2 linked regions of the Homo sapiens genome follow. The protein of the gene in region 1 interacts with the protein of each later gene in a pairwise test. Each region holds a gene or a part of one and is shown in the gene's direction. Other genes may lie near its edges.

What was found. Proteins that work in one complex are often made in the same cells at the same time.
Region 2: the proteins of TMEM41A (region 1) and LPAR3 interact in binary tests that used the Homo sapiens proteins (3 or more experiments, as listed by UniProt).

What each region holds. Positions count from the first base shown.
Region 1 is NC_000003.12:185,497,586-185,501,331, reverse strand, and holds the start of TMEM41A (transmembrane protein 41A precursor), read left to right. Parts: upstream 1-2,296; 5' UTR 2,297-2,370; coding exon 2,371-2,489; intron 2,490-3,746.
Region 2 is NC_000001.11:84,891,610-84,895,355, reverse strand, and holds the start of LPAR3 (lysophosphatidic acid receptor 3), read left to right. Parts: upstream 1-2,149; 5' UTR 2,150-2,340; intron 2,341-3,746. UniProt on the Homo sapiens protein: Receptor for lysophosphatidic acid (LPA), a mediator of diverse cellular activities. May play a role in the development of ovarian cancer. Seems to be coupled to the G(i)/G(o) and G(q) families of heteromeric G proteins.

The sequences.
Region 1 (3,746 bases):
TAATTATCCTGGGTCCTGATGAAAGAGTAGAAATTTGCCAGGCAGAGAAGATTGACAGATGGCTAGAAGAGTGGTGTGATGGGGCATGAACTAACATGGTGTGTTCAGCTGGAATGGAGGGCTGACACCATTTTCCCCCATTTTCTTAAGTGGAAATTTGACACATACACAAGAATAGAAAAAAAAATAGTTTAACACCCAAATAGTATAAAACACCCAGGTGATCACCCAGCTTCAACAACTATCAGCTCATGGACAATCTTGTTCTACCTACATGCTTACTCACTAAACCCCCATACCATTATTTTGACACAAATCTCAGACATTGAATAATTTCATTTGTAAATAATTTTTGGTTCTACATGCTATAACAATTCTGTGAAAAAAATTTTAAATAAATAAATACTTTGGTATCTTAAAAAGTTAAAGTATATCCTCTTTTTGTCCTTAAAAAGGAGTGATACATAGCATACTCTAACACTGCAACTTGTTTGTTTTATTTGTATCTTAGCCATCTATCTGGTGACCACACTGTATCAGGATATGTAGAATTGCTTTCCTCTTTTAGGAGGCTACCTAGTATTCCATTTGTGAATAGTTAACCTAGCCAGTCACCAGCTGATGGGCATTTAGGTTGTTCCCAATCTCCTAACATAAAAACAAAGCTGAGAGAATACCCTTAAATATACATCTTTGCTACCTATGGGGATTCTTGGATGTGGAATTAAATTCCAGTACATTCTTGGATGTAGGTTACATTCTTGGACGTAGAATTGCTGAGATCTTGTGCACATGGATTCTGAAAGGTGCTCCCTATTTGGCCCAACAGGTGCTTTAAATGATAGGACAAGGATGCTTTCTCTCTGTTGTCCAGGCTTTTGACACTTTGGAGTTCTCTTTCTGTCCCTTCCTTCGTTTACTCAGTGACATATCATACCAATCCAACTACCCCCAGCCTCCTCCCTCCATGTCCACTGCTGTGGTCCTGGGTCAGGCCTGAGTGCTTTCTTTCTTTCTTTTTTGAGACAAAATTTCGCTCTTGTCGCCAAGGCTGGAGTGCAGTGGTGCAATGTCGGGAAAGTAACTGCAACCTCTGCCTTCCAGGTTCAAGCGATTCTCGTGCCTCAGCCTCCCGAGTAGCTGGGATTACAGGCACATGCCATCATGCTCGGCTAATTATTGTATTTTTAGTACAGACGGGGTTTCACCATGTTGGACAGGCTGGTCTCGAACTCCTGACATCAAGTGATCCGCCCGCCTGGGCCTCCCAAAATCCTCGGATTACAGGCGTGAGCCACCATGCCCAGCCAGGCCGGCGTACTTTCTTATCAGGACAGTTGTGGCTATCAAGTCAGCACGTATTCTAATCATCTGCCAAAGCGAACATCCTAAAACAGGAACGAAATCATTCTCTTACTTAAACACCTCTGTTGGTGTCTCATCTACATTATTAAAAATCTAACTCCTTAGCCTGCCTTCAGTGCACTCTTGTTTGTCCCCAGATTCTCACTTATTTCTCATATACCTTAGGCTTCACTGAAACTGGATTCTGGTGCCTTACCTGGGACCGTGTTCACCCATTCCCTTCTTTTTCTGCTTGAAGAAAAGTGTTGCTCATCCTTGAAGGTAAACTTAAACTCCATGTCCTCCATAAAGCCACACAGTGTTAAGGGCCACTGGTTTTGGACTCAGGTTGACTTGGATTCTTATACTGTCTCTCTTTTGGGGGGATGTCATTTAATTCTTCTGAAACTCAGAGTTTTCATCTGTTAGAGAAAGACAAAAATACCTACCTTGGAGGATGATTGTGAGGCTCAGGGATGCGGGAATATAGTAGGAGCTGAATTAAAAGCAATTCTGATTATTTCCGTGGTCACTATTGCCGCCCCACCGCACTTGATTGCAGCCCCTGGTGCTACACCAGCTACATTTGCTTTATGTGACAGCAGGTTGTGGACAAGACTGCCTTGATCTCTAGACTGCAAGCTCGCTGTGGGCCGGGCTCACGATTCACCCCCGGATCTCCCAGCCCTGGCACCAAGCCGGCACTGGGGGCGCGCCATGCCTGCAGAATAAGTGGGGAAAGCGACAGGGATAAACGTAGAAAAACAAGCACAGACAGACGGAGAGAGGGCAGACTGGGAGGCAGGTTTTTCCCGGAGTCTCCACCGAAGGACAGAGAGGGCGGAGTCAGAATCGGGGGCGGGGGCCTGGCTCAGGAGGTGGGGCCTGGTTCGGAGGCGGGTCTCGGCGCGGACCCCTCCCTGGTCCGTCAGTGAACGTGCTCCGCGGGCTCAGTCCGCCCGCCGCTGCGTCCCGGAGTGCAAGTGAGCTTCTCGGCTGCCCCGCGGGCCGGGGTGCGGAGCCGACATGCGCCCGCTTCTCGGCCTCCTTCTGGTCTTCGCCGGCTGCACCTTCGCCTTGTACTTGCTGTCGACGCGACTGCCCCGCGGGCGGAGACTGGGCTCCACCGAGGAGGCTGGAGGCAGGTGCGTGGCGGGAATCCGGGTTCGGGTCAGAGGAAGGGAGCCGGGTCCGAGGACCGGGGCTGGGAATCGGAGATTCGGAGATTCGGGTTCCGGTATCGGAGGCGTTGGGAATTGAGGTTCACTTATCGGACTGGAATCCGGGTCTGGTATCCGGGCCCGCGTCCGCACGGTCTCGGACAGAAGGGTGGATGGGAGCCCGGCTCCGGGCCTGACTGGGACCTGTGTGGTGCTGGCTGCAGGGTGTGCAGGGCGTCACGCCGCGGTGCCTTTGGTTGGGTGGATTTGCCGAGGGAGACGCGGCGCTGAGCCTGCCCGCGCCGTTGCTTTCCCAGTCCCAGCCCTGGGCCCCATTTCCAGCCCACCTTCGCCCCCGTGCGGGCCCCCAGCCTCTTCAAGTCCACTTTCAACTGTCTCTCCTCCTCCCCACCCCACTTACGTCAGGTCTGCCCTTGAGACTTTAGACATTAGATCTTCAGGAGAAATATTGCATAGACAACTTTAAATTATTCACGAATTAATTATCGACTCTGCCCGTCTTCCTGGTTGTCTCTACTTTTACCTTTTTTTTTTTTTTTTCTGAGACGGAGTCTTGCTCTGTCACCCAGGCTGGAGTGCAGTGGCGCGATCTCGGCTCACTTTAACCTCCTCCTCCCGGGTTCAAGCGATTCACCTGCCTCAGTTTCCCAAGTAATTGGGACTACAGGCGCGCGCCACCACGGCCGGCTAATTTTTGTATTTTTAGTAGGGACGCGGGGGGGGGGTCTCATTATGTTGGCCAGGCTGGTCTCGAACTCCTGACCTCAGGTAATCCGCCTGCCTCAGCCTCCCAAAGTGTTGGGATTACAGGCGTGAGCCATCGCGCCTGGCCTCCTTTTCCCCTTCTAATGAACGACTGGTCGAGGCAGGAGGCAGAGCAATACTTACCTGGCCGGTTTTTGTGAGTGCTGCATACTCTTTATAAAGTGCATGGAAGTGTGCCTAGTACAGCATTGCGTGGTTAAGGGAATTACTGATATTTGACTATTAAGGCAGCTGTTTTCAGTTACTGTATTCTTTTGCTGTAGCTAAGAAGGCTCTGCTGTGGGTGTCGGACATACCGAGAGAAACTCTCGTGAGAAGTAGGAGGGTTTGCTCATGATTAATCAGTGATGGATTCAAGGACTGTTCAGATGGCAGAGGCAAGATAGCCTTGCTACTATAACCCTTGGGCAGGATTCAAAGTGCATTGAGGACCAGATTAAGAGCAGAGTTAAATAG
Region 2 (3,746 bases), on another chromosome or scaffold:
CCCTCAGCCTTCATCCTTGCCATTTTGATGTTAATTTTAATTTGGCTTTGCTAATAAAAACATTTCGGTAGAGAAGTGAGACACCACAGGCCAAACAAGGATTTGTAGGAGGTTCTGGTGGATAATCCCTGGGCTACCTTCTAAAAACTAGGAATTGGGGGCCACATCTTTCTTTTTAGTTGTCGTTTGCCTCGTCTTTTCTTTTCCTGCTTCTCCCCATAGGTGTTTGTTTGTTTGTTTGTTTATCACTGCTTTTCCTCTCTGAATCTGTTTCTCTGTAACACCTTCTGGCCTTCCCCTCACATCTGACCCATCTAGCTGTTAAAAACCATCTATCTGGAAAGTCTCTTTCCTTTTGCAACACAGCTCCCCATGCCCTCTTCACTTTCCTCCTTTTTTAAGGATTCAGATTCAACTCTGTGGGATCCCTGTTCTGCTTTGCAATTACCTCGAGTTCAGGAAGTTCCCAAGGTACAACATAATGCAACATAATGTGTTTCCCAAGTGCCTTTGTTAGTAAGTTGTTTGGATTCAGAACAGATTTTCCCAGCAAAAGAAGGCTCTTAGTGGTGTTTACAGTCTAGCCTGCAACATCTTACTCAACATACTACACCTTTGTTGCGTCAAGTATTCAGTAAATGCTGGTGGTTGAGTATTTCTGTGTTTACCAGGTTGCCCTTCAGCACCGTGATGTTTGAGCTGAGCTGTTCTCTCCCTTGACAGAGAGAGCTCTTTCCGACCCCCGCCCCTCCGAGACGGAGTCTTGCTCTGTCGCCCAGGCTGGAGTGCAGTGGCGCGATCTCGGCTCACTGCAACCTCCGCCTCCCAGGTTCAAACGATTCTCCTGCCTCAGCCTCCAGAGTAGCTGGGATTACAGGTGCGTGCCACCACGCCCGGCTTTTTGTATTTTTAGTAGAGACGGGTTTTCACCATGTTTGCCACCGAGCTTTTTTATCATATGCAAAGCTTCTGCTTGTAAAAGTAAACACATGATCTTTCTTTAGCCCTAGCTTCGCAAGTTGTACTTCTCTCTACACAGTTCAACTGCAAGACACCGCAATAATTTTCTGAACACTTAGATGAAACAATAATTTTCACATGCTGATGAAAACTTAGCTGTAGCCCCGGGGAGGTTTGAGGCACATTAGGCTATTATGGTCTATAGGATAAGACCCACGGAGTAAGGGACGTAACCTTATTAAAACATCCTCTGCAGAGAAAACAGAATCTCTTTGATGGTAGGGGACAGATTATCTAACAGGTTGTTTGCAAGGATGAGGTTCCTAGCTGGCACACAGAAGGGCGCAGTATTAATGGTGAATGCAAGATGAATGAATGAACGGATGGATGGATGGCAAAGGGTCACAGGAAGACATCTGGGCACACAACTCTCATTGCTTCCTAAGGGCCTGAAGTCTGAGTGGGAAGGACTTCACCTCACAGTATTTCCTTTTTGTAAGGTCACCAGGAAAGCACAACTTTGAACATTTCTGTGACTTCGTTATTGCTTTGCAGAATTCAGAGAGAACAATGCCTTCATGACATTTGTTTTACTTTGCATCTTTCTTCTTTACTAAAGGTGGGTCAGTGGAGGTTTTATATTTCAGCTTTGAAAAACAAAGTATCCAGGACTATTTGCCCCAGGAGGCCAAGAAACCTCTTACAAGAACCTTAAATATTGTTGGTTGCCTCTGGGGGCTGTCCGCACCCTCGGGTAGCTTTGGGGTTGAGGTTTCCAGCGTTAGGTCGGGCTTGGAGTAGAGCCTGCCTCCCACGGGGGTGGTGGGTGTGGGCTGCACTTCCCGCAGCCACTTCAAACAAATCTCTGAGGACAGAGGGGCAGAGGGACTGCGTTCTAATACGGAGCTCCGAGGTATGGCTCCGTGAGGCTTGTGGGTACTAGCGGTCCTTTAGTGGGCGCTTTTCCCTCTCGGGGCCGGCCGACCACCCACCTGGGGACGATCCCAGGCAGGAACGCGTCTGCAAGAGCGCTGCCCTCCCGCGGCTCGCACGGGCCCCTTTGAGCGCAGCTCGCGGCCTTGCAGGTTGGGGACGCTCTCCAGTGGGAACGTCGAACGCACCCGGCGGGGCGGGGCGGGGCAGGGAGGGGCCGCTGTCCCTAGGTCCCTCCCTCGCACCGCCAAACTTTCCTTTGGCTCTGGACGCGTCGCAGGGGTCGCTGGAGAGGAGGCGCTCCGCCCGCCCGCCGCGTCCTCCGCTGCTTCTCCGCGCCCGGCTGGAGCCCGGCGCCCGGTCGCCCCGTCGCGCTCGACCCCGAGGGCATGCGGCAGCCGCAGGGGCCCCCGCTCCCGGGCTCGGCGGCGCGGGTGAACGTGAGCGGTGAGTGAGGGTCCGGGCGCAGGGAGGGTACCCCGAGCCGCAGTCACCAGGGCGTGCGTCGTGGGGAGGCCGGGGCGCAGCGGCGCCTGCAGGGCTCTAGCCTGCGGCTTTTCGGGGTTGCCTGGCGTGCAAGCCTGGGCTCCAGACCCACTCCAAACCCCGGGACAAGACTCTCCCGGCGGGTGTATGGCACAACTTGCTCTTTTCCCACCTTTTTCCCCGCTAGGAGCAAAAAGCAATCTAGATGCAAAATCGGCGTTGCGTCCGCTGCTGAGGGCTGGCGGGCTGGGCGCAGAGGCCAGGAGAGCGCCGCACGGGTTGCGTCTGCCTTTGCACACGTGGTTCTTTCCAAACTCAGTCTCATTGCCATCGATGGTGATTAGGAAACTGGGGTTCTCTCGTGAAGCCTAGGGATATAACATTTTTCAGCCTCCAGTTACATCTGGTACTGTGCTGTGTCCGCTGGGGAACAGCTTGAACCATGTGCAGGCTTCTAGAGATTCGGGAACTAGTAACTAGCAACACTGTCGGGGTTGTTTGTTCAGGGTATGCCCCCTCACCACCACGAGACAAAAGTGCTTTTGTTCTGTAGCAGAGTTACTTTATTGCTTTCCCTCAACAAGTTGCAGCTACACAAAATTGCTTAGAAATTCCGCACGCATGTAATTTGAGGAGTGACTGTGAATATTGGAAACAATTTAGTCTTATTAAGGTAATCATTAAAATGGCCCTGAAAAGCATTTGTAGGTTAGTTTTTATTTATTTATTTATTTATTTATTTATTTATTTATTTATTTATTTTTGAGACACAGTCTCGCACTATCATCCGGGCTGGAGTGCAGTGGCGCGATCTCGGCTCACTGCAACCTCCGCCTCCCAGGTTCGAGCGATTCTCCTGCCTCAGCCTCCCTAGTAGCTGGGATTGCAGGCGCCCACCACCACGCTAGGCTAATTTTTTGTATTTTTAGTAGAGACGGGGTTCCACTGTGTTGGCCAGGCTGATCTCGAACGCTTGACCTCGTGATCCACCCTCCTCAGCATCCCAAAGTGCTGGGATTACAGGTGTGAGCCACTGCGCCCGGCTAGGTCAGTTTTTTAAACTGAGTAATTTCCACGAAATGTTTCCCCCGTAATTTGTTATTGTCATTACAACGCTTTTCTTCCTCCTTTTCCTCCGAAAGTAGCATTACCTGGTCTTGAGATGCCGTTTAGAAATAAAGGGCTTTCTCACGGTTCCAACTTAGTCTGTATCAGAGAATAAAGTAAATGTCAATTACAGACAGACAATCAATCTCCTCTTTACAAATTCCATGTACCGCACAACGTTTCATTAATGCATGGACTTTTGTATCGCTGAGAAGAGTTGCTGGATTTTCCATTGATCCATCAACAGTTGCTAACCCTGC